Linked DNA regions of Homo sapiens. The protein of the gene in region 2 interacts with the protein of the main gene of each other region in a pairwise test. Each region holds a gene or a part of one and is shown on either strand. Other genes may lie near its edges. The genes, in order: SH2D1B and SLAMF6.

Region 1 (3,820 bases), 1.9 Mb from region 2:
CCTCAAGTGATCCCCCCACCTCGGCCTCCCAAAGTGCTGGGATTACAGGTGTGAGCCACCACACCCAGCCCAGAACAAATAATCTTTACCTGAAGAGTTGTTGCAGAAAATGGTAAAAGGAAAAAGACTTTTCTTCGCTTTATATGAACAGTGTAACCATGATTCAGTAAATTATAGTCCTATTTGGTTTATGAGTTTTAATGCAAAAATCTTAAATGAAATATTAACTTACCAAATTCCACAGTTTATGAAAAATAATAAAATATTATCAAGTGAAGCAATGCAAGGATGAAATGATATCAACAATTTTATTAAGGTAACTTACCTTTATAATGGAGTGAAGACAAAAGGAATGTGACTATCTCAATAGATTAGAGATAGAAAAAAATCACAATAAATGTCAAAATATTTCTAGTAAAAATTATAAAATAGCCTTTAACAAGGCTACAACAAACATAATGTTTAAATAAAGAAAATTTCTAAGCATTCCCTGTAATACTGGGAACAGTGTAAGAATACTCACTATCATGACTATGAACTGTTTAATGTATACAGGAGGCCCTAACCAATGGGTAAACATAAAAAATAAATGAGCATAGGTATTGCAAGGAAAGAGAAAATAAAATGTTATTATTTATAGCTGACAAAATCATTTACATAGAAAACACAATAGAATCAACAGGTAAACTAGTAGATCTAATGAGAGGGTTAACATTTCACCAACACCATATCCTATTAGAAATGTAATAAAACATAAGATATCATTTACAGCAACTAGAAATAGGAATTAATCTAACAGAATATACAAGACTTCAGTTGGGAAAATTTATGACTCCATGAAAGGGCAAAAAAGATGACCCAAGAACATGGATGTGGCATGTTTATGCATGGGAAAACATCACAAGAACGTCAGTTCTCTCCTATTTACAAATTTGTTGCAAGTTCATTAAAAATTCCAAAAAGAGGTTTTAAGCAATTTCACGTATTTATTATAAAATGTATATAGAAGAATCAAGGTCCATGAATACCTAAGCCAGTTTTGAAAAGTAAAAGAGGACATTTGTCCTACCTACCAGACCCAGGGAATAGTAGCCATAAATTGCTGTGACCCCAAATCTCACAATGCTCCACACTTTGGGGCTCCAGCCACAGTGTCTGTTCATCTGTTCATATTACCTCTAAGTCGAGAGCTCCTCTCTTTTAAAACTCTGAAGATAAGTCCAGTGGGGTGAAATACATTACTACAATTTGATGATAGGTAAGAGAAAGGGCATAGAATTTGGTATATTTCAAACTGACCAGGTCCTAATTCACATTTTGAACTAGCAGAAAAATTCAGCAAATCAATTTCAGTAAACCTTAAAAACCAATTCAACAAACCTCCCTCAGCAATGTGCTTCCAGTCAGTTTCTATGAACTAGGCACAGCTCTGGGCAGCACAAATTTCTACACACTGTGGAAGATACAAGGGAGACCCAACCGTGCTTTGATGGCACTTAGAACCTAGTTGGGAACAGAAATCACACATAGAATATTTTAGAAATCTCCACATACATCACTGTACAGAACCACATTCATGCTGTTGAAATGACTGATGCATAAGTGGAATTAAGCAAAACCAGGGAGAAAGTGTGGCTGGGGCAATGCTCACCAGGAAGTTTAAGATTAGAAAGAACCAGGAGGAGAGTAGCCCAGGCTGGAGGGAGAAGGGTGCACATGGGGGTCCAGCAGGTACAGAGAAGGTGCTGATCTGTATGCATCTCCATCACTCCCGATCCCTCACCTTCACCTGACACAAGCAGGCTCAACAGAGAGACTGGGGCAATGTTTATCATCCCACCCAACCACAGAGACAAAGAAACTAAGACCTGGAGATGGGCAGAAACGTGTTCAAAGTCACACAGCCACAGGACTGGAACTCAGGGCTTCAAACTCACAGACAAGTGTGCCCCTCCTCTGTATAAAGCTGCCCCTCTGACTGCATGGTCCAAAGGAGGGTGTCAACCATGATGTAGGGTGGTACCTTTAACAAGTCAAAGGGAAAATGTTCAGGCTGTCCCATTCCAAGAAAGAAGAGTGAAACTGGAGAGGGTTTTGAAATTGCTCCTGGTATATGTCTGGGAGGCGGGGATGTGGAGAGTGACCTCTGGTGCTGGTGGGCAGAACATCTTCAGTTACACAACCAGGAGAGTCTGAATTGTCCACTAGAGTTTGGTGCTCTGGACCTATGCCTGCAGAAGTGGGTCATCAGTGAGAACTGTTACTCATCTCTTCAACTTGCTTTGTCCGGCAGCCTTATCTTCAAGGCAAGACATCCACATAATCGCTGTTACTGTTCTTTGGAGGGAAAAAAAAAGCAGAAGACCAGCCATGAGACCACACCCAGAAGTCATATCAAACAACCCCACTCAAAGGAAAGAAGACCCCTCCCCAGGCACAGAGCCATGTTGATGCCACCTGAAAGTTGTATCTTTAAAGGCTGGGGTACTACAGGGAGCCCTCCTAACAAAATAGGAGATCTCTTTATAAGCCAAGCCTCAGACCTTCCAGCACAAGTGTCTCCATTCACCAGCAAGAAATCTGCACCTCCCTTGGAGTAAGAACATCTGAAGCTTCTTCTAAGGAAGCAATGGGAATGGGAGGAAGAGGTTGATGGGGAATATTTCCTCTTCAGTAGCTGAGAATTTTGGAGCCTGCTGTGTCAGCACTGACCCGGCATGGAAAACTGATGGAGTGAGATTCATGCCCAGGTCTTGGGGAAGATTTCTGAGGGTTCTCCTCCTGGGATTTATGATTCTTTTCTCATTGTTGAGACAAATGCTACCACCACCCCAACCAGTCCCAGCAACTCATCTGGGTTTGCCTAAGGGCTGCAGCACAGATACATTCCTGGGTTTCTAGATCTGCCACACTGTATACTTTTTATTCTATAAATTTGGGGGGGAAAGTAGCTGTGGGACTACATCTGCAGCTGGACCTATAGAAAGTGATTTTTTTGTGTCCATGAGTACACACTGCCCTTCATGGGGATGGGGGGACAGGGACACAATGGTAGGGAAGGGAGTTGTATTTTATGCTTAGCCTTGCTGGGGAAATGAGAAGCCGGCTATGGCAGCCTAAAGGGTGACTTTGCCGCAGACAGAGTAGAATGGGGATGGAGTGATTGCAGGCTCCCAGAGAACTCTCTGTCCTCTGTCCCTCTCCTAGGGAGGATATCTGATCTCATCCCATCACCTGCCACTGATAACTGCCATCCCTTTCACTGAGAATATAACCACACATTCCAACATGGGAAAACAGGATTAAGACCTAAGTGTTTCTGGAAGTCTGAGCTAAATTCAAACAACATTGCAACTGATAGTAAATTCTTTACTGAGAGCAGATTTCAAGAGTGTGGGTAAGGAAGAGTAGCTGCTCATGATATAATTTGAGAGGCTTAGGCAGGGATTCTCTGCACTCAGATTTACTGACCATCTCTCATTTTCCACTACGGCTTAATGCCTTTAAAAATGTATCTGACATAATTTGACACCCAGCACTTTATAAATGAATGCTTAGCAAATATTGAGCAAAGTGTAACAGTATACGCTTTGGGGAGGGCTTGAAGGGCTAGAGTGATTTTCTCATTTGAAAATCTGCCCATTTGCCCATTTATTCTCAAACTTGAATCGTCTGCACAAGGTCACAGAATGAATTTGAAGTCAGCTGTCTGCCCAGGAACCACTCTTGCTATCCTGGCTGCAAACGCAGCAAGCTCTCTGTCTTGGCCCTCAGGGACTAAAAGACAGCACTTCTCAACAAAATGGAAATTGCTCTTAGT
Region 2 (3,820 bases):
GGGTCCAGTTTCAATTTTCTGCATATGGATAGCCAGTTCTCCCAGCACCAGTTATTAAATAGTGAATCCTTTCCCCATTGCTTGTTTTTGTCACGTTTTTTGAAGATCAGATAGTGGTAGATGTGCAGTCTTATTTATGGGTTCTCTATTCTGTTCCATTGGTCTATGTGTCTGTTTTGTACCAGTACCATGTACCGTGCTGTTTTGGTTATTGCTGCCTTATAGTATTGTTTGAAGTCCAGTAGCATGATGCCTCCAGCTTTGTTCCTTTTGCTTAGGATTGTCTTGGCTATATGAGCCCTTTTTTGGTTCCATATAAATTTTAAAATAGTTTTTTCTAATTTTGTGAAAAATGTCAATGATAGTTTAATGGGAATAGTAGTGAATCTATTAATTACTTCGGGCAGTATGGTCATTTTCATGATGTTGATTCTTCCTATCCATGAGCACAGAATATTTTTCCATTTGTTTGTGTCCTCTCTGGTTTCCTTGAGCAGTGGTTTGTAGTTCTTTTTGAAGAGGTTCCTTCACTTCCTTTGTTAGCTGTATTCCTAAGTATTTTATTCTCTTTGTAACAATTGTGAATGGGAGTTCATTCATGATTTGGTTCTCTGCTTGCCTGTGTGTGTTGTATAAGAATGCTTGTAACTTCTGCATTGATTTTGTTTCCTGAGATCTTGCTGAAGTTGCATGTGAGCTTAAGAAGCTTTTGGGCTGAGATGATGGGGTTTTCTAGATATAGGATCGTGTCATCTGCAAACAAAGATAATTTGACTTCCTCTCTTCCTGTGTGAATATGCTTTATTTCTTTCTCTTGCCTGATTGCCCTGGTCAGAACTTCTAATACTATGCTGAATAGGAGTGGTGAGAGAGGGCATCCTTGTCTTATGCTGGTTTTCACAAGAAATGCTTCCAGTTTTGCCCATTCAGTATAATATTGGTTGTTGGTTTGTCATAAATGTCTCTTATTGTTTTAAGATATGTTCCATCAATACCTGGTTTATTGAGAGTGTTTAACATGAAGGGATGTTGAATTTTATAGAAGGCCTTTTCTGTGTCTATTAAGATAATCTGTGGTTTTTGTCTTTAGATCTGTTTATGAGATGAATTACATTTATTGATTTGCATATGTTGAACCAGCCTTGCATCCCAGGAATAAAGCCAACTCGATCAGGGTGGATAAGCTTTTTGATGTGCCGCTATATTTGGTTTGCCAGTATTTTATTGAGAATTTTTGCATCAGTGTTCATCAGGATATTGGCCTGAAGCTTTCTTTTTTGTTGTATCTCTGCCAGGTTTTGGTATCAGGATGATACTGGCCTCATAAAATGAATTAGGGAAGGGTCCCTCCTTTTCAATTGTTTGGAATAGTTTCAGAAGAAATGGTGCCAGGTCCTCTTTGTACCTCTAGTAGAATTCAGCTGTAAATCCTTCTGGTCCTGGGCTTTTTCTTTTAGACTATTTATTACTGTCTCAATTTCAGAATTTGTTATTGGTCTATTCAGGGATTCAGCTTCCTCCTGGTTCAGTCTTGGGAGGGTGTATGTGTCCAGGAATTTATCCATTTCTTCTAGATTTTCTAGGTTATGTGCATAGAGGTGTTTATAGTATTCTCTGATGATTGTTTTTATTTCTGTGGGGTCAGTAGTGATATCCTCTTTTAACATTTTTTATTGTGTCCATTTGATTCTTCTCTCTTTTCTTCTTTGTTAGTCTAGCTAACTAGCAGTCTATCTATATTATTAGTTTTTCAAAAAACCAGATTCTGGACTCCTTGATTTTTTTGAAGCATTCTTCTTTTATCTATCTCCTTCAGTTCTGCTTTGATCTTGGTTATTTCTTGTCTTCTGCCAGCTTTGGAGTTTGTTTGCTCTTGGTTCTCCAGTTCTTTTAGTTTTAATGTTAGCATTTCAATTTGAGATCTTTCTAGGTTTTTGATGTGGGCATTTAGTGCTCTAAATTTCCCTCTTAACAGCTGCTTTAGCTGCATCCAGAGATTCTGATACATTGTCTCTTTGTTCTCATTGGTTTCAAAGAACTTCTTGCTTTCTGCCTTAATTTCATTATTTAACCAGGAGTCATGCAGGAGCAGGTTGTTCAATTTCTATGTAGCTATGTGATTTTGAGTGAGTTTCTTTGTCTTGAGTTCTAATTTGATTATGCTGTGGTCTGAGAGACTGTTTGTTGTGATTTCAGTTCTTTTGTATTTGATGAGGAGTGTTTTACTTCCAATTATGTGATCAATTTTAGAGTAAGTTCCATGTGGCAATGCATAGAATGAATATTCTGTTGTTGTAGGATGGAGAGTTTTGTAGAGGTCTATCAGGTCCACTTGATCTAGAGCTGAGTTCAAGTCCTGAATATCTTTGTTAATTTTCTGTCTGAATGATCTGCCTAATATTGACAGTGGATGTTAAAGTCTCCCGCTATTATTGTGTGGGAGTCTACATCTCCTTGTACGTCTCTAAGAGCTTATTTTAGGAATCTGCTTTTGTATTGGGTGCATACATATTTAGGATAGTTAGTTCTTCTTGTTGAATTGAACCCTTTACCATGCCTTTCTTTGTCTTTTTTGGTCTTTATTGCTTTAAAGTCTATTTTGTCAGAAACTAGGATTGCAATCCCTGCTTTTTTCTGGTTTCCATTTGCCTGGTAGATTTTCCTCTATCCCTTTATTTTGAACCTATGTGTGTGTTTGCATGTGAGATGAGTCTCTTGAATACAGCACACCAATGGGTCTTCACAATTTACCCAGCTTGCCATTCTGTGTCTTTTAAATGGGGCACTTAGCACATTTATATTTAAAGTTAGTATTGTTATGTGTGAATTTGATCCTGTCATCATGATACTAGCTAGTTATTTTGCAGACTTATTGATGTAGTTGCTTCACAGTTTCATTGGTCTTCATTGTGTACTTCAGTATGTTTTGTAGTGGCTGATAATGGCTTTTCCTTTCCATATTTAGTGCTTCCTTCAGGAGCTCTTGCAAGTCAAGCCTGGTGGTGGATGAATTCCCTCAGCATTTGATTGTCTGAAAAATATTTTATTTCTCCTTTGCTTATGAAGCTTCATTTGGCCAGATATGAGATTCTGGGTTGAAAATTCTTTTCTTTAAGAATGTTGAATATTGACCCCCAATCTCTTCTGGCTTGTAAAGTTTCTGCTGAGAGGCCTGATGTTATTCTGATGGGCTTCCCTTTGTAGGTGACTTGGCCTTTCTCTCTGGCTGCCCTTAACATTTTTTCCTTCATTTTGACCTTGAAGAATCTAATAATTATGTGTCTTGTGGTTGATCCTCTCATGGAGTATCTTACTGGGTTCTTTGTATTTCTTGAGTTTGAATGTTGGCCTGTCTTGCTAGGTTGGGGAAGTCTCCTGGATGATATCGTGAAGTATGTTTTCCAACTTTGTTTCATTCACCTGTCTCTTTCAGGTACCATAATCAGTTGTAGGTTCGGTCTCTTTACATAATCCCATAATTCTCAGAGATTTTGTTTGTTCCTTTTCATTCCTTTTTCTCTAATCTTGTCTGCCTATTTTATTTCAGCAAGATAGTCTTCAATCTCTTAAATTCTTTCCTCCACTTGGTCTATTCGGCTATTGATACTTATGATTGCATTGTGATGTTTTCATGTTGTGTTTTTCAGTTCCATCAAGTCATTTATGTTCCTCTCTAAGCTGGTTATTCTGATGAATAGCTCCTGTAATGTTTTATCCTGATTCTTAGGTTCTTTGCATTGAGTTAGAACATACTCCTTTAGCTCGGCAAAGTTCATTATTACCCACCTTCTGAAGCCTACTTCTGTCAGTTCATCCTTCT

What was found.
Region 1: the proteins of SLAMF6 (region 2) and SH2D1B interact in binary tests that used the Homo sapiens proteins (3 or more experiments, as listed by UniProt).

Annotation. Positions count from the first base shown.
Region 1 is NC_000001.11:162,394,979-162,398,798, forward strand, and holds the end of SH2D1B (SH2 domain-containing protein 1B), read right to left. Parts: intron 2,338-3,820; coding exon 2,302-2,337; 3' UTR 290-2,301; downstream 1-289. UniProt on the Homo sapiens protein: Cytoplasmic adapter regulating receptors of the signaling lymphocytic activation molecule (SLAM) family such as CD84, SLAMF1, LY9 and CD244. In SLAM signaling seems to cooperate with SH2D1A/SAP.
Region 2 is NC_000001.11:160,513,011-160,516,830, reverse strand, and holds part of SLAMF6 (SLAM family member 6 isoform 1 precursor), read left to right. Parts: intron 1-3,820. UniProt on the Homo sapiens protein: Self-ligand receptor of the signaling lymphocytic activation molecule (SLAM) family.